Homo sapiens: one gene and its partners. The protein of the gene in region 3 purifies or fractionates together with the protein of the main gene of each other region. This does not show direct contact. Each region holds a gene or a part of one and is shown on either strand. Other genes may lie near its edges. The genes, in order: SMC2, MYO6, ARRDC4, PPP6R3, UBE3C, PJA2 and LRP4.

Region 1 (3,500 bases), on a different chromosome or scaffold from region 3:
TGTGCCTTTTTCAAAAGGTGGGGAGCAGGATAGAGTCAATGTTTAGGGCAGTTTCTTAGAATATATTTCTGAGAGAAAAATTATTAGGTCTCAGTCAGCATTAGGCTTCCATGATTTTTACCAAATCTATGACTTAAGTATTAAAAGAGTTTTAGCTTCTCATAAGTTGTGTTTTGAAGCAATAGATTGAATTTGGTAAATTCTGAAGGAGTTCTACCTGACTTACATTTCATTCTAATGGAGGTGCTTTGCGTATACTTCGTAAAAATTTCTCTGTGAGTTGGCTCTTCTAATGCCAAAGTAATAGGAAGATCTTTTGCTATACAGTGTCTTGTTTCTGTAGTCTGTGTTCCAGGTAAAAATATTCATCTTTATTCTTGTCAGTAATGAAACTCATTTTTAAAAATGAGTCGCCTAGGCACGGTGGCTCACGCCTGTAATCCCAGCACTTTGGGAGGCCGAGGTTGGCAGATCACCTGAGGTCGGGAGTTCCAGATCAGCCTGACCAACATGGAGAAACCCCGTCTCTACTAAAAATACAAAATTAGCTGGGCGTGGTGGTACATACCTGTGATCCCAGTTACTCAGGAGGCTGAGGCAGCAGAATCACTTGAACCTGGGAGGTGTAAGTTGCGGTCAGCCAAGATCGCGCCATTGCACTCCAGCTTGGGCAACAAGAGTGAAACTCCATCTCAAAAAAAAAAAAAAAATTAGTCATTGAAGGTTTTTTCCTCTTCAGTATTTGATTCAAAAGTATTAAATAGTTAAGAAACTGGCTTATACATATTGGTTTGTAAACATTCATAGATCTCCCATCTATTTTTATATGTGGCTAGGTATCCAAAATGTTGAAAGATTATGACTGGATTAATGCAGAGAGACACCTCTTTGGCCAACCCAATAGTGCCTATGATTTCAAAACTAACAACCCTAAAGAAGCTGGTCAGAGACTTCAGAAGTTGCAAGAAATGAAGGAGAAACTAGGAAGAAATGTCAATATGAGAGCTATGAATGTATTGACAGAAGCTGAAGAGCGAGTAAGTCAATTTCTTATGAATATCTGGCCGCATTAGAACATGACTAGCATTGACAGCTCTGTATGACCTCTGATGCAATTATTAGAGTTAACCTTTTGCAGATGTCCTTGATACTTTTCTTTCTGCTTTCCTTTTTCTCTTTTCGTCATTTTTTTCTTATTACTCTTATGCATCATTAGTTGTTTTTACATTCTATTACACCTGGAATGACTTTTTCACTGGCTTTTGTTCTTTGTCAAACATAATTCCTCACATTTCTATCATTTCATTTCTTTCACTTGCATTGAAAAGCCTTGAATAGGATATACTTCTGTCATCCTCTTGACTCTACTGTATACTGAAACTATATAAGTAATGACTAAAGCCATTATACACATAAATACTGTTTCACTGATCTGTAAATTCTGCAGCCTCTTCTCAGTTTTAATGCTCTCAATTACTCAATAATGTTATTCTTCCCTAACCTGACAAAACTTTGAGTCTGGGAAGGGAGTTTACTGTCATCTAGTGATGAACTTGGGAGGACCTATCACTAGAAAAACCCAGTGGGGGAAGCATTCCCTACTCTTAAGATAGCCATAAGAAATGGCTATCTTAGTAATTTTATATTAATGCCCCTATTAATGCCCCATACCTTCCTGAATGCTGGAAAATTCTGTTTGAATTTGCAAATCAGAGTAAAATTCATGAGAAATCTGCGACACTGATAATAGCACAGTTACTTTGAAGAAATTTTACCATAATTTTTTTTAACTGTTTTTGGCATGAATATGCACAAAGAGTCTATATTATATTAGATACCAAACAGATGAATCATGCAGGTATTGTGATCTCTCTAGAAAATGCTCCTGCTGGTTTTCATTTCTACATTAAAGCTTTGCAATATGTGATATATTTGTAGAAGGAAAACTTTGGTCTGAATTTGATCTGCATAACATGAAACTTGTTCACTTTTACTCGTTTACTTCTATTAGATGAGACCTGAGTCTAATATTTTTTTCAAAAGAATTTATCAACTCCCATCTCTTTACCAGAGGAGAAGCCTATATTGTTGATCAGCAGATGGCCTTTTTTTTTCTTGTGTTTTGTATCTATCTACATAAGCAATTACATGGATTTTCATGAAAAAATAAGATAAAAATGTAGAGAGAAGGTTAGGGGAGCGTGGCTGTAAAGAAGAGGGACAGCAAGGAAAACAGCAGGACTGACTAGAATTGTTAAAGGTGAATGTGAAGCCTCCTTGAAATGTAGGGCTTTGAGGAGAAATGAATTAGGAAGAGTTTTAGGAAGTCCCATTGCTGTTCATGGTATGATTATCCCTCTACAGCCTTGCTTGAAGGAAGACTACTCTAAAGTGGTGATATTTGAGCTGAAATTTCAGGCAACCGTTATGTCAGAGAAAGAGCATTCCAGGAAGGGAGAATAGTGCAGGGGCCATAAGACAATAGTGAGTTTATTATGTTCAAAGGAGCTGTAAAAGACCATATGGCCAGAACCTGGGGAGGAGTTTAATGCCATAAAGTCAAGGGATAAATAAGGTCCAATTCCCTTTATCCTGATGCATACAGGGCTTAAAACCTGGTTGATTGGTGCAGCAAGCCATCATGGCACATGTATACCTATGTAACAAACCTGCACATTCTGCACATGTATCCCAAAACTTAAAATTAAAAAAAAGTAAGGTCCAATTTATGTGGTTCCTATATATCATGGTGAAGGATCAAAATTTTGTTCATGTCACTGCTAAGGCTGACCTTAAGAGGAGAGCTTTCAGGGCTCCTTTTACTTAAGTTTATATGTAACACTTTTTTTTTTTTTTTTTGCCTTGGCTGCTAAGGAGATAAGGGAATATTAGTGGAGTCAAAATATTTTAAGGACTTTGTCTTATAAATTCTTAGTTCTAGTAATTTAGTTATATACATATGGATGATTTTATTCCTAATTTTGTTAAGAGTGTGTATATGAGTGTGTATATACACACACATCATACAGTATATGTATAGTATATGAGTATATATAATTCTTAGTGCATTATATCTTTTTGGTAAATAGCAATGTATGTATTGTATATAAAAATAATGAAAACTGTTTATTTCTGACCAAATTCCAGAATATAGAAGAGATTTTATATTTTCCCAGTTAACCATGTTTTTTATCTCATAGTACAATGACTTGATGAAGAAGAAGAGAATTGTAGAAAATGACAAATCCAAAATTCTTACAACTATAGAAGACCTTGACCAGAAGAAAAACCAAGCCCTAAATATTGCATGGCAAAAGGTACTTTTTATGTTTGTTTTATATGAGGTTGCAAGGATGAAAAAATATCATCAGTGGAGTTATACTCTATAAGAAATTTGAAATAGCTGATCTATGTTTGAATGAGGCACATATTCACACCTTAATTAAAACCTCTGACTTTTAAATGCATTTTTTTCTTTTTGAACTTGACTACTACCAGAT
Region 2 (3,500 bases), on a different chromosome or scaffold from region 3:
TAAAACGTACTGTAGTGTCTACCACGGACCAGGCACTATTCTAAGTTCTAGGGATACAGTGATTAAATTAAGACCAAGCCCCTGTACTGACATTTTATTGTTGTTTTGAATTAAGTTAATTATAGACTCTTCATACTAGGATGTAATCAACAGGGCTGACCCTAAAGTTGGGAAATAGGCAGTTGTCAAAATTGTGCAATTTAAAGGCTACTGCATGACTTACTTGCTCTGGAATATTTCTGACCTATCTGTCGAAGACTCCCAGACTATTGGGTTATGGCGCTGTTACCAACCTGCTTTGATAAATATAAGTATGTTCCATCATTTATCACACTTTTAGCAAAGAAAACTGAGAGAAAATAAATGGGAACTAGAATTGGACACGGTGATGCTTACCTGTAGTCCTAGCTACTCAGGCGGCTGAGGCAGGAGGAATGCTTGAGCCCAGGTGTTTGAGGCCAGCCTAGGCAACATAGCCAGATTCTGTCTCAAAAAAAAAAAACAACAAGCAAGCAAAAAACAAATGGGACTAGGACTGATATGTTGGTGTTGTAAGAGAAGAGGTTAGCAAAGTATAATTTTAATAGCAGCTATTGTTTTTTCTTTTTTTTTGAGACGGAGTCTCGCTCTGTCACCCAGGCTGGAGTGCAGTGGTGCAATCTTGGCTCACTGCAACTTCCGCCTCTCGGGTTCAAGCGATTCCCCTGCCTCAGCCTCCTGAGTAGCCGGGATTACAGGTGCTCACGACCATGCCTGGCTAATTTTTGTATTTGTAGTAGAGGTGGGGTTTCACCATGTTGGCCAGGCTGGTCTCGAACTTCTGACTTCAGGTGATCTGCCCGCCTTCGCCTCCCAAACTGCTGAGATTACAGGCATGAGCCACTGTGCCTGGCCAATAGCAGCTATTGTTTATTGAGCTTTTACTACCATGTCAGATATTATGCCAAGTGAGTATTTTTGTATACATTAGCTCAATCACTGTGTCACCTCAGTGGTGCTGGTGTTATGACCTTCATTTTACAGATTAGGAAACTGAGGGGCAGAGATGTTAAATTTGCTCAAGCTTATTTGGTGGTGCTGGAATTTGGGTCTCTGCTAGTACTAAGCAGGTAGTAGATACTAATGTGGAAAGAGTACTTATGTGTGTTGTGTGTGTATATATATATATATATACACATATATATACACACCATATATAGTGTGTATATATGTGTATATATGTATACACACATATATAGTGTGTATATATGTATACACACATATATAGTGTGTATATATGTATACACACATATATAGTGTGTATATATGTGTATATATGTATACACACATATATAGTGTGTATATATATGTATACGCAATATGTATTGTGTATATATGTGTATATATGTATATACAAGAGTACTTATGTGTGTTGTGTGTGTGTATGTATATACACACATATATACACACATATATTGTGTATATATGTATATAGACATATATACATATACATATATAGACATACATACATATGTGTGTGTATATATGTATATAGACATATACACAATATATGTGTGTGTATGTATACACACACATATACATATAGAACATATATACATATACATATAGAACATCAGAAGTCTGTGTGTGTGTGTGTATATATATGTATACACATATATATACACACACACACATAGAGACAGACTTCTGATGTTCTGCTAGGATGTGTGACACATCACAGAGGTGGGCGACCTTGGTGTGGGAGTGATGGGTGTGGGGAGTCAGGATAGCTTGTTGGGTGAGGGGTGGGAATTGGGGTTGGAAGGAGATGGGAGGGTATTACTTGCCTAACTACTTGGTCGTCAGGCTTAATCCTCTCTCTGACAGCCCTGGGGTTCCAGAGTTGCGTTTAAGCACAGTGCTTTCTTGTCCAGCTCCTGGGTAAGAGGATAGGCAGACCTGAGGCAATCCTGGTTTTGTCACTCATTAACTTGGTCAAATTATTTCATTTCTCTAGGCTTCAGTTTTCTCATCTATAAAATGGAAGTAACAATATTACCTACCTGGTGTGGTTCTTATGAGGATTGAATTAGATAATAATACATGTAAAACACAGATCACACTGGCTAGCACATAGTGTACATTCATTATTATTGTTGTTACTGTGTTTTTTTTTGTCATGTTTAATGTGGAATTTTCATCGAAAAGCAAGAAGAGCAATATATTAGTGATTTGGTTGGAATCTTGAAGTTGGCTTTTTTTTTTTTTTTTTTTTTTTGAGATGGAGTCTCGTTCTGTTGCCCAGGCTGGAGTGCAGTAGCGCGATCTTGGCTCACCACACCTTCTGCCTCCCAGGTTCAAGCAATTCTCCTGCCTCAGCTTCCCGAGTAGCTGGGACTACAGGCACGTGCCACCATGCCCAGCCAATTTTTGTATTTTTAGTAGACACGGGGTTTCACTATGTTGGCAAGCTTCCCTTTTGATTTATGTGCAAACTGGAATTAGAGAACTACTAGCTTAAACTTTTTCTTTATCTTTTGGTTAGGGAGGGCTTCAACAAGATTAACGACAATTTGCTTGGGTTAACCAGGCAGTATGTGGTAGAGGGAAGTGAAATATGTTACCAGAATCTCTTCATTGACTTTTTTTTAAAGCTTATTTGGGGCTTATAGCATTGTATGGAGAAGACAATGCAGTGTTAAATTTCGCACCTAAATTAGATTGTAATGACTGTTTCAGCTTTTTGTTTGTTTGTTTGTTTGAGATGGAGTCTCGCTCTGTCACCCAGGCTGGAGTGCAGTGTTGCCATCTCAGCTCACTGCAAGCTCCGCCTCCTGGGTTCACGCCATTCTCCTGCCTCAGCCTCCCAAGTAGCTGGGACTACAGGCTCCCGCCACCACGCCCAGCTAATTTTTCTTATTTAGTAGAGATGGGGTTTCACTGTGTTAGCCAGGATGGTCTTGCTCTCCTGACCTCGTGATCTGCCCGACTCGGCCTCCCAGAGTGTTGGGATTACAGGCGTGAGCCACCGCGCCTGGCCTGTTTCAGCTTTTTAACTAGCTTCATTCGGAGGTGATTAGTTAATATTAGTTAAAATTGTTAATTTTTAACGATTATACAAATAGTAAAAATGTATAAATACATGTTTGTATAGATCTTTTTTTTTTTTTGAGATGTAGTCTCACCCTGTTGCCCACGCTGGAGTGCAGTGGCATGATCTCAGCTCACTGCAATCTCCCCCTCCCAGGTTCAAGCGATTCTAATGTCTCAGCCTCCTGAGTAGCTGGGATCACAGGCATGTGCCACCATGCCCGGCTAATTTTTATATTTTTAGTGGAGACGGGGTTTCACCATGTTGGCCAGGCTGGTCTCGAACTCCTGACCTCAGCTGAGCCACCCGCCTCAGTCTCCCAAAGTGCTGGGATTACAGGAGTGAGCCACAGCGCCCGGCCGTTTCTATAGATCCGGTCATTTCTATAGATCTTAAAAACTTTCAAAAACTTAGATTTCTTTAGATAATG
Region 3 (3,500 bases):
AAGTTTTTATGACCATTGTGGGAATTGATTTAAAGGGATTTGTCTTTGCCAAAAACAGACACTGTTGATCCCTTACGATTCTTTATATAAATAAAAAAAAAATATTGCAAGTAACTGGGTTTTACAGAAAGCTTTGGTGTGTGTAACTCGTAAACTGAACATTGTAAATCTTGTAGTAACTTCTCTTGCCACTATAGAATAGAATACTGCAGTGAGAGGGTATGTTTAATAAGCTTTTCAGATCGGTTAACACTACACATGTTATTGCACTATTACACAAAACCCCAAAACCACTCCAAATTAAGAACACATGAAATTTCTGCTTGATAATGCATTTTGAAGTAAGTGGTGGGAAAAGGCTGTTTGTTTATTCCACTTTATTAAATGCCAAAATAAATATAATGTTCTGATTATTTTTTATTTTTATATCATTTATCCTTCCACCTGACTTTTATATATAAAGTCTTAAAAATAATTCTGTCATGTTTATAAGTCCTAATACAGCTTTTGATTTTTTTTTAAAAAAATGGTATATTATTTCCTGGAAACATAATGACTTCAGGGTAAAATAAGATGGTGTCATGCTAATTTTTGAATCTGAAAATTCACTGTAGTTTTCCTAAAAGGGGAGTCTTAACACCCTGTGTTTTTGTGCATATTTGGCCTAATATGTTACATGAGGATAAGAAAGTTTGATTCATTTTTTTGGTATTTCCTTACAACCATTCTGTGAAGATAGATATAATTTTAAGTTCTATGAGTTCTCTAGAGTGGCTTAATTAAGGTTGTTTTATTGTTTGAAATTTTCAAGACCCCTGTATTGAAAACTCAAGAGAAAATGGTTGGCTGTTGGTTTTTCACTTCTGGTCCAGTCTCGCTGAGTGCCAAAATTGAAAGAAAGGGATACTGTAATGGTAAGCAAAATGCTTGAAAGTCCAAATGAAAGATTTCATTCATTTTCTTAGCTAATTTTAAGTGATTTTAAATAGTGTTTTTTGTAATTATATGACGTGTATAGTATTTTAAAACATGAATAGTGATACATTTTTTATATAAATAATTGATATTTAAGTATTTTTAAAAGGAGGAATTGTTTCCAGTCAAACTCCTGTTTTTTTTCTGACTTCAATCCTGTTACTTTAGTAACAAAGAGTATAACTAGAGGAATGAGAAAATGCCAGCATCTGATTTTAATGTTGCAAAAGAATCTCCAGGGTTGTATTGCTAAAAAGAGAACTACTGGAGTATGAAATGCTATTAGACATTCTGATTCCATGCTGGCTTGATATATGCAAATGCATGGGACTGGAATGTAGTGTATTAACAAACTTAACAATCAGATTGTTACTGGAATTGCCATTAGTGAAGGGCCCATTTCCAGCAGTGGATTTGGCCCCTGCTCCAGGATTCTGACTTGTTAGAAAGGAATTCAGTATGGAATGGTATGATGTGCAGCCATAATGTTATAAAACTTGCCTAATCCATCCGTTGATTCTTTCTGTGCCTTAACATTATTAATTCCTTAAAAGCAAAGGCTTTGTTCTCCTGTTAGGCAGATTTTAATTTGATAAGCACTAATGAGTTTGTTAGTGATCTTTTATACTTAACATAGTCCTGAATCATTTATTTGTATGTCTTATCCTAATTTATATAGACACTGGTCATTTACATATCTTTAGAATTGCTAATGCAATATTGCTACTTTAGAAAAGTCAATAATGCAATAATTAGAAAATAAGATCTACCACAACCTGCAGTGAATTTTTATTTCTCTGGCTTGAATTTACAATATGTTTTCCATCAAAGCTTCTCAATTTGTTAAAGTGATGTTGGAACATTTCAGCTATACGGCCCTAATCCATTGTGGTGAGAACTTTTTCAAGAGTCTCTGAATCCTCCCTGGTTTTGTTTTCTTTTTAGGAGAAGCTATTCCAATCTATGCAGAAATAGAAAATTGTTCCTCTCGTCTGATTGTTCCAAAGGCTGCTATTTTCCAAACGCAGACATATTTGGCTAGTGGAAAAACAAAGACCATTCGACACATGGTCGCCAATGTGCGAGGAAACCACATCGCTTCTGGGAGCACAGACACATGGAATGGGAAAACGCTAAAAATCCCACCTGTTACTCCATCCATCCTGGATTGCTGCATTATCAGAGTGGACTATTCCTTAGCTGTAAGCAAAGCTCTTTTTTAAAAAAAAATGTGTATGATGGACAATAACTGATGTCATGTTACTGTGGGTATGTAGAGTTGCCTATAAAAATGTCATTTTATTTCAGCATTAACACCAATTGGGGACTGTATGAAGATTGGCCCTTGTTTTTAATAAAACCTATTCCCCACAGGGGATTTAATAGAATGCCATAAAAGAATTGAGGTGCATTAAGGGGTGTTTGTTATATTGAAGACATAGCCTTAATTTTCTATAATTATTATATAAGCCATGCAAACCTACAATGATGCATGTTAAGGACACAGTTCTCTGTCACAGAGCATTCACTATGTTTTGTGTACTCTTCATTTTGTTTAATCAAGACAATTGAGAATTGTGATGGGGGTGGTGGCAGCCGACAAAAGCATTTGTTTCTATGAAAAAAAGAAATTAATTGGGCTACCTACTGGAGGTGTAGCTTACATTTGTTCCTTTCTCTTTTTTTTTTTTTTTTGGCTTATTAGGTATACATTCACATTCCTGGTGCTAAAAAATTGATGCTCGAACTGCCATTAGTGATCGGTACAATTCCATATAATGGTTTTGGCAGCAGAAACTCCAGCATTGCCAGCCAGTTCAGTATGGATATGAGCTGGTTGACACTGACCCTGCCAGAGCAGCCTGAAGGTAAAATATGTTGGCGTTCTTTCATAACGAAGCTTTACCTAGAAAATACCTAGGAACAGAATATATACACTATTAAGTGCTCAGATGTTGATGAGTACTGCTACTATAGGTATCTTTATTCCTACTACTAAAAAATCAGAAAGCATTAGTCCTGGGAGGGACTTTGAAAGTTTAGCTTTATCTAGGACGCAAAGCTGCTGATAGCAGATTCAGGAATAAGATGTACATTTCCTAATTCCTATTTGTAATAGGAAAACAATGAAAAACAGTCAAATGTATGGTGTGTTATGTCTTTTCTATAGTCATATTTCAGTGATATTTGTTTACCTATATCTCAAGAGACTAGAATAGAAGCTATTAGTAGTAGTTTAATAAAAGGAGAATCTATTTTTTATTGTAATATGCATAAAACCTTGCTGATTAGAGGGAAAGAATGCCATATTTTTTATCTTCAAGTTTAGCTGTTTCTTGTTTTTGTAGCAGTTAAGAATCGAGATTAATTTTTGAGTGGATTTCTTAACTCCAACTTCATTTCTATTTCAGCACCACCAAATTATGCAGATGTGGTATCAGAGGAAGAATTCTCTAGACACATTCCTCCTTACCCTCAACCCCCTAACTGTGAGGGAGAAGTGTGCTGTCCTGTGTTTGCCTGTA
Region 4 (3,500 bases), on a different chromosome or scaffold from region 3:
ATACTTCAAAAACTTCTAAAGGTTTGGGAAACAAACGTTCATGTGAAGGAGCCATATGGGCTGATAGCGAGGCTTGCCCCAAGCCTGGCCAGTCTCTGATTGCCCTGCAAGGCCTTTTTTATGTTCATCCCAGAGGCTGAAGCCCAGCTAGGGTGGACCTTGTGGTGACTTCAGAGCTAGATGGGACCAGATCAGTCATCCAGCAAACTGCCACATGTTGCAGATAAGGAAACGGGATGGGAGAAGAAGAGAGATCTTCTTTCTGCTGCCTGTTTTCCAGCCCACCCTCAGGAGGAGGAAGTGGACTTTTCTGTCCGTAATTCAGTTTCAGTCAACATGCCTTTGTCAAGTTCCTACTGTATGCCAGGTGTTAGGCCTGTAACTGTGAACGGGCCACAGACTCTGCCTCCAGGGGCTTGGGGTCGGCTGGGGAAGCAGATGGGCAGTGCAGGGGAATGGGTACAGGGTGCTAGAAGAGGGGAGCCTTCCATTAGGCCTCTTTGTAGAGGCAGGTGGGTATGAGGCTGAAGGACCCGTAGGGATTTGCCCGTGCGAGAGAGAAAACAGCTAATCCAAATGCCCAGAACGTGCTGTTTTGCATGGCTCGGGGATGAGGTGGCGGGAGCGAAGGCCAGAGGCCAGATCAGGAGTTGTATTCTGAAGGTTGTAGGGAGCCCTTGAGGATTTGACTAAGAAGATCATTATTGGTTCTGTTTCAAGACATTCATGGCAACAGTGAAAAATGGACGAGAAAACGCATGGTAGAGACAGGAGAACCATGAAGACATTGAACTGTTACACATGAGAAATAATGAGAACTGCAAGATGGGCTCCAGGCAGCAGGGAGGTGTGAGGAGGAGACAGGGCAGATGCCCTGATCTGTTGGCTCTGGAATCTGTAGGGTTTGTTGTTGTTGTTGTTGGTTTTTTTAATGTACAGTTCAAGGTTGGGTGCAGTGGCTCAGGCCTGTAATCCCAGCACTTTCTGGAGGCCGAGTCAGGCGGATCACTTGAGGCCAGGAGTTCGAGACCACCCTGGCCAACAGGGTGAAACCCTGTCTCTACTGAAAAAAAAAAAAAAAAGCTGGGCATGGTGGCATACACCCATAGTCCCAGCTACTCGGGAGGCTGAAGCAGGAGAATCGCTTGAACCTGGGAGATGGAGCTTACAGTGAGCCAAGATCATGCTGTGCACTCCAGCCTGGGCGACAGAGTGAGACTCCATCTGGGGAAAAAAAAAAAGTACAGTTCAGTAGTATATTCACACTGTTGTGTAACAGGTCTTTAAAACTTTTTCATCCTAAACTAAAACTCTGTACCCATTAAACAATTCCTCATTTCTACTTCCCCAGTCCCTAGCAGCCTCCATTCTACTCTCTGTTTCTCTGGGGTTGACTAGTCTAGGGATCTCATATAAATGGAATCATACAGTATTTATCTTTGTGACTGGCTTGTTTCCCTTAGCATAATGTCTTCAGAGTTCATCCCTGCTGTGGTGTATACAGGATTTCCTTTTGTTCGAAGGCCGAATGACATTCTGGAATCTTTGGTTCTTTTAGCAGGCTGGGTATGGTTAAGTGACAGGGAGGGAAACACACTTGGCTGGACTGCGTGCCGCTGCTGCTGTGACTGTGGGCCTGGGTGTAGGGATAAGCAGCGAGGAGGCGAGCACCCTGGATGAGGTTCGCGTTTACCTACCTCCCGGGGTTAAGTGTGGCAGGGAACCAGGCCTCCTGCTTCTCTGTTCCTTGGGAAAGACAGCTTTTGCATCTTCAGATCTCTGGAGACACAAGTGGGTAGGGTTGGGGAAGATTCTCTCTCAGGGCTTCAGGGCTACAGGGTTGCCCCAGAGAGCCTCTGCCATTCCACCAGTCTCTGTGGCTTCTGTTGGAGGTTTTGTGGACATTCAGAATCATTTAAAATGTTACACGGACTCTGAGGAGCTCATCTGGGAAAGACTATCTCAAAGAGATAACAGAAAAGTCATTTGTGTGTAATATAATTTAGTTGTAGAGTAGAACTCAGATAGAATGATTCCAGAGCTTTGCATAGAGTGGGCAGGCAAAAATAACTGTCAAGTTGACTTTTTGGAGGTTTCAGGTGAGATTTTCAAACATTCAAGCATTTATTCCTTCTTGGTGTCAGTGGAGCCCTGTGACACTCACACAGGTAGGTGGGCAAGAAGCATGGAGCGCACCCTAATTAAATGCCTACTCTGTGCAGGCCCTCCTGTGATCTTTGCTAAGTGAATAGTCATTATGAAATCAAACAGATGAAGTCAGATATCTTGGGGAAAGTCACAGTCAAGTCTGTCTTTAAACTCAGAACATTTCTATTCTACACGGGTACTTCTTAATCTTAGTCACTTGTGTCTGGGTTAAGCCCTTAAATAACTTATACCAGTTTCCCTAGCATTCCTTCCTGCAACCTAGAGATTCCTAATTATGATAATATCCCTGATGGAATGCAGTGGTTCCCACATCTGGCTTGTCCCCAGCAAAGAATTGAGGATTCAGCACTCTGTGAAGGAAAAGCATGGTGTGCAGTTAGAGCAGATCCACAGTGACCTGACTTCATCAGAAGGGACACATGTCTGAGGAGGTGACATTTAAGGAGAGACCTGCAGATTAGACCCAAACTTGGCCAGCAGGCAGCATAGTAAGAAGAGCCCCACAGACCGTAAGTGTGCTCAAGCAAGTCCTGCCGCTTCAGCCTCTGAGGCCAGACCTGGTTCTGCAGGACTTAGGAAGCCTAACTGCAGTGCACTGCAGGGAGCCCGCAGAATGGGCGAAGTGCAGTCAGACCCGGACTGGGAAGCATTAAGGTTATTTCTAGTTTATTGGAGTTGAATAATCAACATGTTCTTTTTTTAGAAAAATAACCTTTTTACTTTTGAATAATTTAGATTTATAGAAACATTGCCAAGATAGTAAGTCTCCATATATCCTTCACTTAGCTTCCCCAAGTATGAATACAGCCATGGTACATTTGTCAAAACTAAGAAATTAACATTAATCCCTCTTTGTGCATGTAGCTTTGAATCTCTGTGTAGTATTTCTTTTGGAACAGTTGTTAGAAATGGGAGGTTTGAGGCCAGGCGCGGTGGCTCACGCCTGTAATCCCAGCACTTTGGGAGGCCAAGGCGGGCGGTTCACGAGGTCGGGATATTGAGACCATCCTGGCTAACACAGTGAAACCTGTCTCTACTAAAAATACAAAAAATTAGCCAGGCGTGATGGCGGGTGCCAGTAATCCCAGCTACTCAGGAGGCTGAGGCAGGAGAATGGCGTGAACCCGGGAGGCGGAGCTTGCAGTGAGCGGAGATCGTGCCACTGCACTCCAGCCTGGGCGACAGAGCGAGACTCCATCTCAAAAAAATAATAATAAAAAGAAATGGGAGGTTTGAGAATGTGGGATCATTGTTAGAGTGCCCTCCAGGTGGCTGTGCCCTGTCCGCTCCTGCCCTCATTGGTGAGAGTGTCTTTCTCCCACAGCTCCAGT
Region 5 (3,500 bases), on a different chromosome or scaffold from region 3:
TAATTAATCAAAAGTACTAAAATTACTTTTCTTAATTAAAAAGGTATATAGGCCAGCTGCAGTGGCTCACGCCTATAATCCCAGCACTATGGGAGGCAGAAGCAGGAGGAATCCATGAGGCCAGGAATTTGAGACCAGCCTGGGTAACACAGTGAGACTCTGTCTCTACAAAAAAACTAATAAATTAGCTGGGTGTGGTGGCATGTGCCAGTAGCCCCAGCTACTCAGGAGGCTGAGGTGAGAGGATTGCTTGATCCCAGGAGTTCAAGGCTGCAGTGGAGTATGATGGTGTCATTGCACTCCAGCCTGGGAGACACATCAAGTCCATGTATCAAAAAAAAAAAAAAAAAAAAAAAAAAAAAAAAAAAAAGTCTTGCAAATTAAAACATGTCTGAAACAAACCTGCATTTTTATTCCTCTGCAACGAGTCAAGACAAAAGTTTGTACATTTTTCAATGTCAGTAAACAAAAAAATACATATACTCTATACCTTAAATAACTGAATCCATCTTTTCTGTTCCATCTGTATGCATTGTTGCATTTCAGAGCTAGTAGTAACTCCAATACTCTGAAATGCTGTAATATATTCTTCTCGAACTTCTGGCTTGGTTTCTGGATAAGCCAACTTGATGATCCCCAGGCATGCATCTCGAAGGCATCGAGACAACATTATCAGCTCTTCTAAAGTAAAAGGCATCATTGATGATTGTCTTTGACCTACAACTAAAAAACACAATCCAGTTTTCTATTGTTTCTTTTTCCATCTTTTAACACACACTGAAAGACTTAAAAAGCTTAAAACTTTTCTACTGTCTATGAAAACTGATGGGCCAAGTGGCCAGCAGCAAACTGGTTTCTCAAAATCCTTACCTTCTATGGGATCACCGAAGAATTCGTTATCATGTATGGAAATTAGTGAATGACTAAACAAGGAGCTAAAAAGATAAAAGAGTGGGATGATTCGACTAGAATCTTCAAAAGACATAGGAGAACCCCTGGATATCACCTGAAGCAACGGTACCATAGACCTTGAATTAAAGAAAAGAAGAAAAAAACCAGTCACTTTAAAATTAGTCTTAGTTTGGGAACTAATTAAAACATAACATCAAACAAATATAATCAGGGAAAGTAACATTTGCATTAGGAATTAAACTATTTAAAGGCAAGGTAAAGTCACCATGGCAATGCAGGTTAATAAACAGCATAGATTAATACAAAAAATAGCATACCAACCCATTAATCTTCACTAAGGTTTCTGCTACCTGTACCAACTAGATAATGAAGTTACTAAGAGTAAGCCAGTCGTTCCCAGACTAAGGCCCTAAGAAGAGCTCTAATAAGGCCACTATTCAAGACACACATGTACTTTACTCTTATGAGGAAACCATCCCCCTTCCCTTCTACTCAACATATTTAATAAAGGCAAATCATTCTGGTCTCAGGAAAAATTTATCCAGCGACTTAACTTTTGGTAACGTTGAAAGCTATTCAATATTGAAGCCAAACTGGAACCTCAAGAAACAAAGTTTCCAGTTCTCTATGGTGGCCTTGCTCCCACTGTCCACTTTATTCACCAGCTCCCATCCTGCTCCTGCTTTCACAGCAGCTAAGGTGGTCTTTACTCAGCAGCCTTTCACCCATCAAGAGCTATGATATATTAAATTAATTAGCCAGGTGTGGTGATAGGTGCCTGTAGTCCTTCCTAGTTACATAGGAGGCTGAGGCAGGAGAATGGCTTGAGCCCAGGAGGCAGAGGTTGCCATGAGCTGAGATTGCGCCACTGCACTCCAGCCTGGGGAACAGAGCCAGACTCTGTTTCAAAGAAGTTTAAAATATTAAGGAAAAAAAAAAAGAAAAGAAAAAAGGCTGGGTATGGTGGCTCACGCCTGTAATCCCAGCACTCTGGGAGGCCGAGGTGGGTGGATCACAAGGTCAAGAGTTCGAGACCAGCCTGGCCAACATGGTGAAACCCCATCTCTACTAAAGATACAAAAAATTAGCTGGGTGTGGTGGCACGTGCCTGTAATCCCAGCTACTTGGGAGGCTGAGGCAGGGGAATCACTTGAACCCGAGCAGCGGAGGTTGCAGTGAGCCGAGATCGTGCCATTGCACTCCAGCCTGGGCAACAGGGCGAGACTCCGTTTCCAAAAAAAATAAATAAATAAAAAAGAGCTACGATATATTAAATTGACTTATTTCACCTAGAACTTCTTCCTTTTCTCTCGTTTTTAAGTCTGGTTCCTTGTCTTATGGAACTTTTAGCTAATAGGCTCACCTGCAAGCTCTTTCTATAAAGTCCATGGTCCCCTCTACCAAGTCAAATCAATCACAGGTTAACAGACACTGTGAGCAAGATCACTCTCTTATCTCCCCAAATATCCATTTCCACAAAACTACAGGTATATATTAGATGAGATGTAACCAGGAGTCAGGATCTACAAATCATGTATGAAAGCAAAGCAGAAGGTAAGGCCACTTGTTCTAATTAGCGGGGCCGTAAGGAGCTTGGCTGAGCCACCTGGAGCTTCTGAGTCTCCATGGTGCATGGTTCAGGGGAGGGCACTGCCATCATCAACCGCTTTGAGAAAAGGAACCCATATGTGCACCTGAAACTGTGTTCCCACAGAGAAGATACACTATGTCCACATGCTACACAACCTGAGCATACATGATCCATGTTTGCAGTTGTGATACTCTGCATTTAGCACTATGCTGAACAGATTCATCAATGAATGAATGCCATTCTTCCAAAATTTAAACATTGTGGGACATTCAAAAAGGGACAAAGCACAATTGTCCTACCTCATTGCCAAAGCCAGGATGACACAAAAAGGTTGTTTATATGGAGGATAAAAAAGGCACAGGGCTGCCTTAACTGGACAGGGGTGGCTTCTTTCAACAGCCCTGCCTATGACAGCTGGAGCCCACTCCTGCGTCTTGATGAGCCTGCTTTCCACTGTTATCCCCGACAAGAATCCTTGTACTTGTACTGTTATCCCTGACAAGAATCATCACCACCAACACATCATCAGTTATGCACACATATTGCAGGATGCATAAAATTCTTATATTGGGTCCAAAAAAAAAAGGGACAGGGTAATTAACCAACAAAAACTTATTTGTCCTCTTCAAACCCCCTGTGAAACAAGCAAAAGGAATGCATCATTTTTACTTTAATGACAAAAACTGGGATTGGCAAGGATATGTGCCAATGCTGCCCTGCAGACAGGGCACAAACGAGACACAGGTCTCTTAGTTCTCTGCTGACCATTCTTTCTGCTATAAACACTGACTCAAATATTCCTCTGAAAACAGGTCAGTCTCAAAGACTTATGTGCAAATAAAGTCTGCAACTTACTGTAATGGAAAAGACACTGATTCACACATAACTCAGGGGAGCTAGGTGAATTACTGACCATCAGTGAGACCCGAGGCAATCCCTAACCTCTGTCTAGATCTTGAGAACAAGGGTTTTCAAATTGCGTGCCTGTGGGAACCAC
Region 6 (3,500 bases), on a different chromosome or scaffold from region 3:
TAAAACATTTTCACAATGCCTGATAAATAATGAGCCATCAATAACTGTTAGCGAGTCTTTTTTTAACATTTTTTTAAACTCAAATACATTTAGTTAGGATAAGCAATAGCCATTAAGTCCTGAATTTGATGTGCTACCTATATTTTCTTAATTTCCATTAACATAAATACATAATGATTAAATTAAAAACATTGTGTACCACTTAATATATTTTACCCACTTTGGAAATAGTGACCTATAGAATAAAAAGTTAAATGTCTTTGAATAACACTTATAATTTACTGCTATCTGATCCCAGTACTTTCTTGCATCCAACTCAAGAATGCTCTATTTCAAACAGTGTCCTCAAAGTGGGCATTCTTGCCATCAGGAATATCTTTATAATCACTTCACCTTTTCCCCACTTCCAAACACAGATCAGACTCTATTTCTTTCAAGACCTTCCTGTATAAAATCGCTTCTTTTGTTTTTCAATTATTTCATGAACTAGACTTCTTGTTTACTCAGTGCAGCTCACTACAACACAGCTGCTTCTTTAACATTGCAATTATTTTTCATAATAGTGCAGAGAAATCAAAGAAAATGGGTACTGAGAAAAGACAAATGGATGTGGAAATCAGGAGGTCACCACTGACATTAAAGAATATAGGGCCGGGTGCAGTGGCTCATGCCTGTAATCCCAGCACTTTGGGAGGTTGAGGCAGGTGAATCACCTGAGGTCGGGAGCTCGAGACCAGCCTAAGCAACATGGAGAAAACTGGTCTCTACTAAAAATACAAAATTAGCTGGGTGTGGTGGCGCATGCCTGTAATCCCAGCTACTCAGGAGGCTGAGGCAGGAGAATCGCTTGAACCTGGGAGGTGGAGGTTGTGGTGAGCCAAGATGGTACCATTGCACTCCAGCCTTGGCAACTAGAGCAACACTCCGTCTCAAAAAAAAAAAAAAAAAAAAAGAAAGAAAGAAAAAAAAATTAGCCAGGCATGGTGGTGCACACCTGTAGTCCCAGCTACTCAGGAGGCTGAGGCAGGAGAATTGCTTGAACCCAGGAGGTGGAGGTTGCAGTGAGCTGAGATTGCACCGCTGCACTCCAGCCTAGGTGACAAAGCGAGACTGTCTCAATAAAAAAGAATACAGAAATAATATTAGGAATTAGATTTCAAGGCAGTAAGAAGAGTGGATAGTGACAGAATAGAGACAGTGGGTATGGAAAACTTTTTCTTAAAATTCAGCAGTAGAAAAGAAAACACAAACAGGCAAATAACAGAGCAAGAAAAAGTAAAGGTTTTCTTCAAGATTGAGAAAAACTCAAGGTTGAGAGACAGAGGGAAGCAACCTGTGAGTAAGGACAATTAGATGAAGTGTCAGAAATAACTAGAGGCACAGAATGAGAGGGGCTACCTCTCTTCATTGAAGAGGAAATTAAAAATACAAATAAATACTACTATCCCCTAATATGGAGAAGAGGAAAATAAGAAAATTCACATTTACATATTTTTAACTTCTACAGGAAAATAAGAAACGAAGCTAACCATTAGGAGTGACAGGAGTACATGGAAGGAAAAAAGGGAAAAGATTTAAAAATCACTTTTTAAGGAGTAAGCAACAGAACAAATAGGACACAAAAATGATCATGGAACAGTGAAGATCCATTTGTTCTAGATTTTAAAAGCGGGTGAATGACACATTTAAAAGTTCTCAAAGTAAAAACTAAATTAAGTACTACTTTGATCTTCATATGATCCTTCACTGGTACTGATCCCTTTTAGCACCTAAGAGTTGTATTTAAAAAGCAGACAACTATAATTTACTCAAATGTTACACTCTACACATTCAATTGTGAACTAAAAAAACTTGATATACAGAATGAAATTATAGACAAAATTTATGTACAAATCCTAGGCAGAAATAAGCTATGGAAACATAAAACCAACCAAAAGTAATCTCTCATTCCATAATTCCCCAAGGTACTTGTTACTTTGTTCTTCCTGGCATTTATCACAGCCACAAGAAACTCAACTACAGGAGCCTAGGAAAAAGTGAAATTTTAAATATTTTGTTATCTGACATAATCTAAACATTCTGGAACTTTTTACCACTATTAACACTGAACTGTAATGTAATACAGTGATATGAATGGATTATGTCCAAATATATAAGTCTGCTTAATTTCATTAAGATGGCTATGATTTTTGCATTGTGCCTGCTTTTTGTCACTTTCTGGTCTTTTTCCTTAGTATCAGGTTATTGTAATCCCATGAACTCCCTAGCATATCTGCAGAACAAACACATTTATACCTAATGTGCTCCTTCCAAACTTCTATGAACTTGAAAACAAGATAAAAAGGTTTGCTAAAATGTCAGCACATATGCTTTAAGATCTGTGCCTTGGCTGCATATAGATGTTTTATTTGTTGGGGGTAGTACCAAGTTCTCAGACAAACTCTTTCTTTGTGGCTCTCAGGTAACCTACACGGAACAGGAAAGGCGCTTAATTCAGCCTCACAATAATAAATACGTATATTTTGTCTTCTTCATAAAGCTAGTGAACCTTGTGGGAACAGGGACCATTATGATTTGTATTAACAGGGCACCTGGAACAAAGTCTGGCACTTAAGATTTCAACAAATCCTTTAATATATCATATTGAAGTCAACTAAATGGCTAACAATCATTTTATTTCCCAACATCATCAACAAAGTAAGTTGTCCCAACATTTTACCTTAAGTAAGGTTTTTAAATTTTAAGCAAAGTTAAGTCCTAAGGCCACAAAAATTCTGCAAGAAACCTCAAATGCTATAAGTAAGGAACAGACAGTAGATGGCATGCCTCTCTTCAGAGCAGTTAGGCCCAAGGTTAAGATATGCTAGTATTGCTGAAAGGTTTTTTTTAAACTCAAGATCTTGTCCTCAAACAGTTACTAAACTTCTCAGGGTATATTTCAAAAGAGCAGGGTATTAACCTTAGCTCTTTGGTCTAATTCTAAGTCTGGTAATTATATGCTGCCTATTAAAATTCCCCTTGGAATCCTAATTTAATAAGGTGGTGCTCAGTACCTGTCAAACAGCTCAGAGCAATGCTACTGGCTGCAATGTTTATCCCACAGAGTGTAACATTTCAGATGTGATTAAATGATCATTTAGAATTTTTCAGGGAAGAAGGCAATCATGAATTCATTAAAATACTTTTCTACTTAAAAAGAATATATAATTCATATTTTTAAAAAGTAGCCAAAATTCCTATATCTAAAAATGCTGGCCGGGTGCAGTGGCTCACGCCTGTAATCTTGACACTCTGGGAGGCTGAGGCGGGTGGATCACTTGAGGTCACAGGTTCAAGACCAGCATGACCAACATGGTGAAACCCCATCTCTACTAAAAATACAAAAATTAGCTGGGCATGATGGCATGCCTGTGGTCCCAGTTATTCAGAAGGCTGAGGCAGAAGAATCACTTGAACCTAGGAGGCAGAGGTTGCAGCGAGCCGAGATCACGCCACTGCAC
Region 7 (3,500 bases), on a different chromosome or scaffold from region 3:
ACCATGTTGGCCAGGTTGGTCTCGAACTCCTGACGTCAAGTGATCCACCCACCCCAGCCTCCCAAAGTGCTGGGATTACAGGCGTTAGCCATCGCACCTGGCCAATGTAAGACGGGAATCTAATGTTACCTACCTCATAAGGATATTGTGAGGAATAAATATGATATCATATACTAAATGCTTATCACAGTACCAGGGACACAGCAAAGCTCTCAAAAATGCTAACTGCTCCAGAAATACATTTGGATTTTTTAAACCACATATCCCAATTTGTAAATCCACATATCCCACAATTTGCAAAAATTGTCATTGGAGGAGATCATTCCTAGAAGAGCAGAAATTCTCATTTGGGGAAGATACATTGTAGAGTTGTTGGCTTTTATTGGCTCTGGGAGCCTGTAGTTGAAACTTATTGTTTAAACTGCCCGTGGAAGGAGGGTGGAAAACCTGGGGCTCCCCTTTCCTATTTGCTAGGCTTGTGGATGCCATAACCTGGCCTCTCCACTTGGTTAGAAGGAGGCTACAGTCAACTCAACAGAGAAGCTGTCTCTTGTCCTCATCCATGCCAGCGCGTGGTTGCAGGCCACTACCCCTCCCCACCTCCCCCAAGGCGTGACAGGAAGTGGAGCTGCCGAGCTTGGAGAGATCCCTGGAGGCACTTACAACCTTGCAGCTTCTTTATTTCACATGCTAATCAGGTGTCTCTCTGGATACCCTTCTCTGTACCTGCTCTGCCCTACACCCAGACAGAGGGAGGGTCCCTCTCCCGCAAAAAGGCACTGCCTGGAGCCAGGAGCTTCCCGGCTCCAGAAAACCTCCGGTGATAAATTATGCAGCAGCACCTCTGTGTCACTGCCTCTCAGCTAGATGGGAGGTTTGCTCCCAGTCTTTTGTTTCCGGCTCTGCTTGCCGCTCTGATCCTCAGCTGTGCATAGAGGTGAGGGGGAGCTCCCATAGGCCAAGTCAGGGCTTGCAGCAAGTCCCAGCCAGGCTATCCCCAGTTGGGTCCCAGACAGCGCCCCTCCCCTCATTCGAACCTGAATGATGGGGGAGTCCTATTCCGCATGGGGAAACAGGGTGTCAGGGAGCGCTAACAGCCAGTCCGCTCATCTGTGAGCAAGAATGGGAATGCCTACGAGCAGTGAAAGAATGAAGTCTGCTTGGATGGGCGTAAGAGGCGCCCAAGGGCACCTAGGATGTTTGCTTCTTGCTAAATCAAAAACGCACAACAGAAAATGGAGGCAGACAACCGTCAGGAAGCTAGAGAATTGGCTCTTTTTAACAGCTGCTCTTGGTTACGGTCAACTTTCCGCAGCTCCCAAAAATCACATCACTGGCACCAACTTAAAAAGAAGAAACAAAAGAGACAACAGGGGTCAAACTTTGAGGTGGAGGAACTAGGGGTTGGGGGCTATTCGGGGCTGGAGACCCACATCAATTAGGCCTGCAAGCTGACAGGCTTCCTGATTGAAAATGGTAGCTGCGAAGGCTCCACAACAGCCCAGCTCCCAAATTGGGGCAATTACTACCTTATGAGCTCTGGAGCCTGACTCCTTTCTCAGGCCAATGGGAGGGAGGGCTTGGAATTCTAAACTGTTCCAGCTACAAGAGTCCCTGGCCAGCCCCTCTCACCCCATGTCACAGGAATCTTAGCAGGAGAAGTTGCTAGGCTGCATCCCTGACCACTTAAGAAGGGAAACTCTCAGAGGAAAAGCTCCATTTCCCCAGACCTCTCTCAAGAGAACTAAGGCGACATGAGTTCCCCTAGACTGATGTTATAGCTTAGCAGACTTCTTTTCTAGGAGTGGGCACAAGTGGGAACTATGCTTCGGTTCTATCACGTTTTCAAGGGGAGAAAGAAGGGGCAGATCTTTAAAAGAGACAAGCAAAAGACCAGCTGCAATGAATGAAGGACCAAGTCTCAATTTTAGCACAGAACACGGTAGCATAATTATTTACCTGGCTCCCATGTTCTAAAGCCAAGAATCATCTCGGATCCACTTAGGTGACTTTGCTTACAGCTAACTTTTATCAAGCTCTACAGTAACACAGTAGTTGCCAAGCTCTGTGCTGCATAGTTTGAACATGCTATTATCTCAGGTAAATTTTATGATATTCCTATGTGATAATCTATTACTACTTCCCTTCCCCTACCCTACCCGCCTTTGCAGGTAACAACCCTGAGGTTCAGGGAGATTTTGCACAGGGTCACCAAGAATTGCCAGAGCCAAGATTCAAACCCAGGTCTGTGGGTGCTTCTTAATTGCTGAGCTTCGTATACAGTGATTATATTAATGCTTGACATATGTGTGTTTGCTGAATGAATGAACAAGTGAATGGGTGTGGAGCCTAGTTTGAGGAATGCTCCCGATTGTACGAGGAACTCATTCCTGCCAGCTCTAAGCTGGAGTGAGAGTGACAAGCCCATGCAGTCATCAGAACTATTTATAAGGTCAAACTCAGGCTCTGCCAGCTAACCAGTCAGCACTGAGTCTTCCCTGGGACACTGAATCCTCACAGGCTGAGGAGGGGAGGAGGGCTTCCGCTGCTGAAGATGAGATGGCAGTCCAGACACAGTCTGGGGCCCAGATGCCCCATGTCCAGGCAACTGTGACAAAACTCGTGGCTAAGCTGCATCAAGGAATGTAGAGAGACCATGGCTGGAACAGGCTAACAGACCTAGTCAACCAAGGGCACAGACTGTCTCGTAATCTTACCCAATCATAAAAAAGACAAGATTACTTCTTAAAGTAGTCCCTGAAATTCTGTTCCTATTCAGGAACCCCCAGTATTTTTTTTTTCTTTAAAGGGGCAGCAACATAAACAATTTCTCCTATTTTCCTTCTAACAGTTAAGACTGGCAGTTAATCGGTAGAAAGAGTGAGCAAAGAGCTATAAAACACCGTGTCCTCTGTGACCTCCTGTGTTCTTTGCTGGCCCAGAAGATGGACATACCCAACGTGCTCTGTATCAGACATGGCCAGACTTGGTTCCCTTGCACCTGTCATTCTTAATACCACGTGCCAGTCCAAAAGATGTTATCTGATATTCATCAGGGTACAGAAGAGGAAATCCAAAATCAGTGACAAGCCAAGTATGTTTCACAAGCCCAACAGATCAGGGACAAGGTCACTCAAGCACCATGACAACCCTGGTCACGACAACAGCGAGATGGAAAGGAGACCAGTCTCAGCTCAATTGCTCTGCACTTATTTTCAGATACAACCTTCTATCTACCCAAGCACGCCTAGGCAGAAGTTTTAACATTTCCCTTACCTGGATGAGACCTCTAGAACAAACACACTTTCCACTCTTCCAATGGTTGTCATCCATGCCCTTACTTCAAACTTCAGGATGAAAATCACTCAGGGCTATTACCAGCCATCAAGTTTCCTTCCAAAATCTTTAAGGTTGGAGAGTTATGTGGGCTGAGTCCAAACCAATAGGCTCTAGGAAAAGCCCCAAGGACTAGCAGCATCCAAATAAGCACCTTAAACTTT

What was found.
Region 1: the proteins of ARRDC4 (region 3) and SMC2 purify together in Homo sapiens (affinity purification with mass spectrometry; one large-scale study listed by BioGRID and IntAct). This does not show direct contact.
Region 2: the proteins of ARRDC4 (region 3) and MYO6 purify together in Homo sapiens (affinity purification with mass spectrometry; one large-scale study listed by BioGRID and IntAct). This does not show direct contact.
Region 4: the proteins of ARRDC4 (region 3) and PPP6R3 purify together in Homo sapiens (affinity purification with mass spectrometry; one large-scale study listed by BioGRID and IntAct). This does not show direct contact.
Region 5: the proteins of ARRDC4 (region 3) and UBE3C purify together in Homo sapiens (affinity purification with mass spectrometry; one large-scale study listed by BioGRID and IntAct). This does not show direct contact.
Region 6: the proteins of ARRDC4 (region 3) and PJA2 purify together in Homo sapiens (affinity purification with mass spectrometry; one large-scale study listed by BioGRID and IntAct). This does not show direct contact.
Region 7: the proteins of ARRDC4 (region 3) and LRP4 purify together in Homo sapiens (co-immunoprecipitation; one large-scale study listed by IntAct). This does not show direct contact.

What each region holds. Positions count from the first base shown.
Region 1 is NC_000009.12:104,128,809-104,132,308, forward strand, and holds part of SMC2 (structural maintenance of chromosomes protein 2), read left to right. Parts: intron 1-836; coding exon 837-1,037; intron 1,038-3,200; coding exon 3,201-3,317; intron 3,318-3,500. UniProt on the Homo sapiens protein: Central component of the condensin complex, a complex required for conversion of interphase chromatin into mitotic-like condense chromosomes.
Region 2 is NC_000006.12:75,755,739-75,759,238, forward strand, and holds part of MYO6 (unconventional myosin-VI), read left to right. Parts: intron 1-3,500. UniProt on the Homo sapiens protein: Myosins are actin-based motor molecules with ATPase activity. Unconventional myosins serve in intracellular movements. Myosin 6 is a reverse-direction motor protein that moves towards the minus-end of actin filaments.
Region 3 is NC_000015.10:97,967,203-97,970,702, forward strand, and holds part of ARRDC4 (arrestin domain-containing protein 4), read left to right. Parts: intron 1-811; coding exon 812-914; intron 915-1,920; coding exon 1,921-2,177; intron 2,178-2,680; coding exon 2,681-2,843; intron 2,844-3,386; coding exon 3,387-3,500. UniProt on the Homo sapiens protein: Functions as an adapter recruiting ubiquitin-protein ligases to their specific substrates. Plays a role in endocytosis of activated G protein-coupled receptors (GPCRs).
Region 4 is NC_000011.10:68,596,752-68,600,251, forward strand, and holds part of PPP6R3 (serine/threonine-protein phosphatase 6 regulatory subunit 3), read left to right. Parts: intron 1-3,500.
Region 5 is NC_000007.14:157,204,926-157,208,425, reverse strand, and holds part of UBE3C (ubiquitin-protein ligase E3C), read right to left. Parts: intron 1,029-3,500; coding exon 871-1,028; intron 724-870; coding exon 491-723; intron 1-490. UniProt on the Homo sapiens protein: E3 ubiquitin-protein ligase that specifically catalyzes 'Lys-29'- and 'Lys-48'-linked polyubiquitin chains.
Region 6 is NC_000005.10:109,371,975-109,375,474, forward strand, and holds part of PJA2 (E3 ubiquitin-protein ligase Praja-2), read right to left. Parts: intron 1-3,500.
Region 7 is NC_000011.10:46,912,051-46,915,550, forward strand, and holds part of LRP4 (low-density lipoprotein receptor-related protein 4 precursor), read right to left. Parts: intron 1-3,500. UniProt on the Homo sapiens protein: Mediates SOST-dependent inhibition of bone formation. Functions as a specific facilitator of SOST-mediated inhibition of Wnt signaling.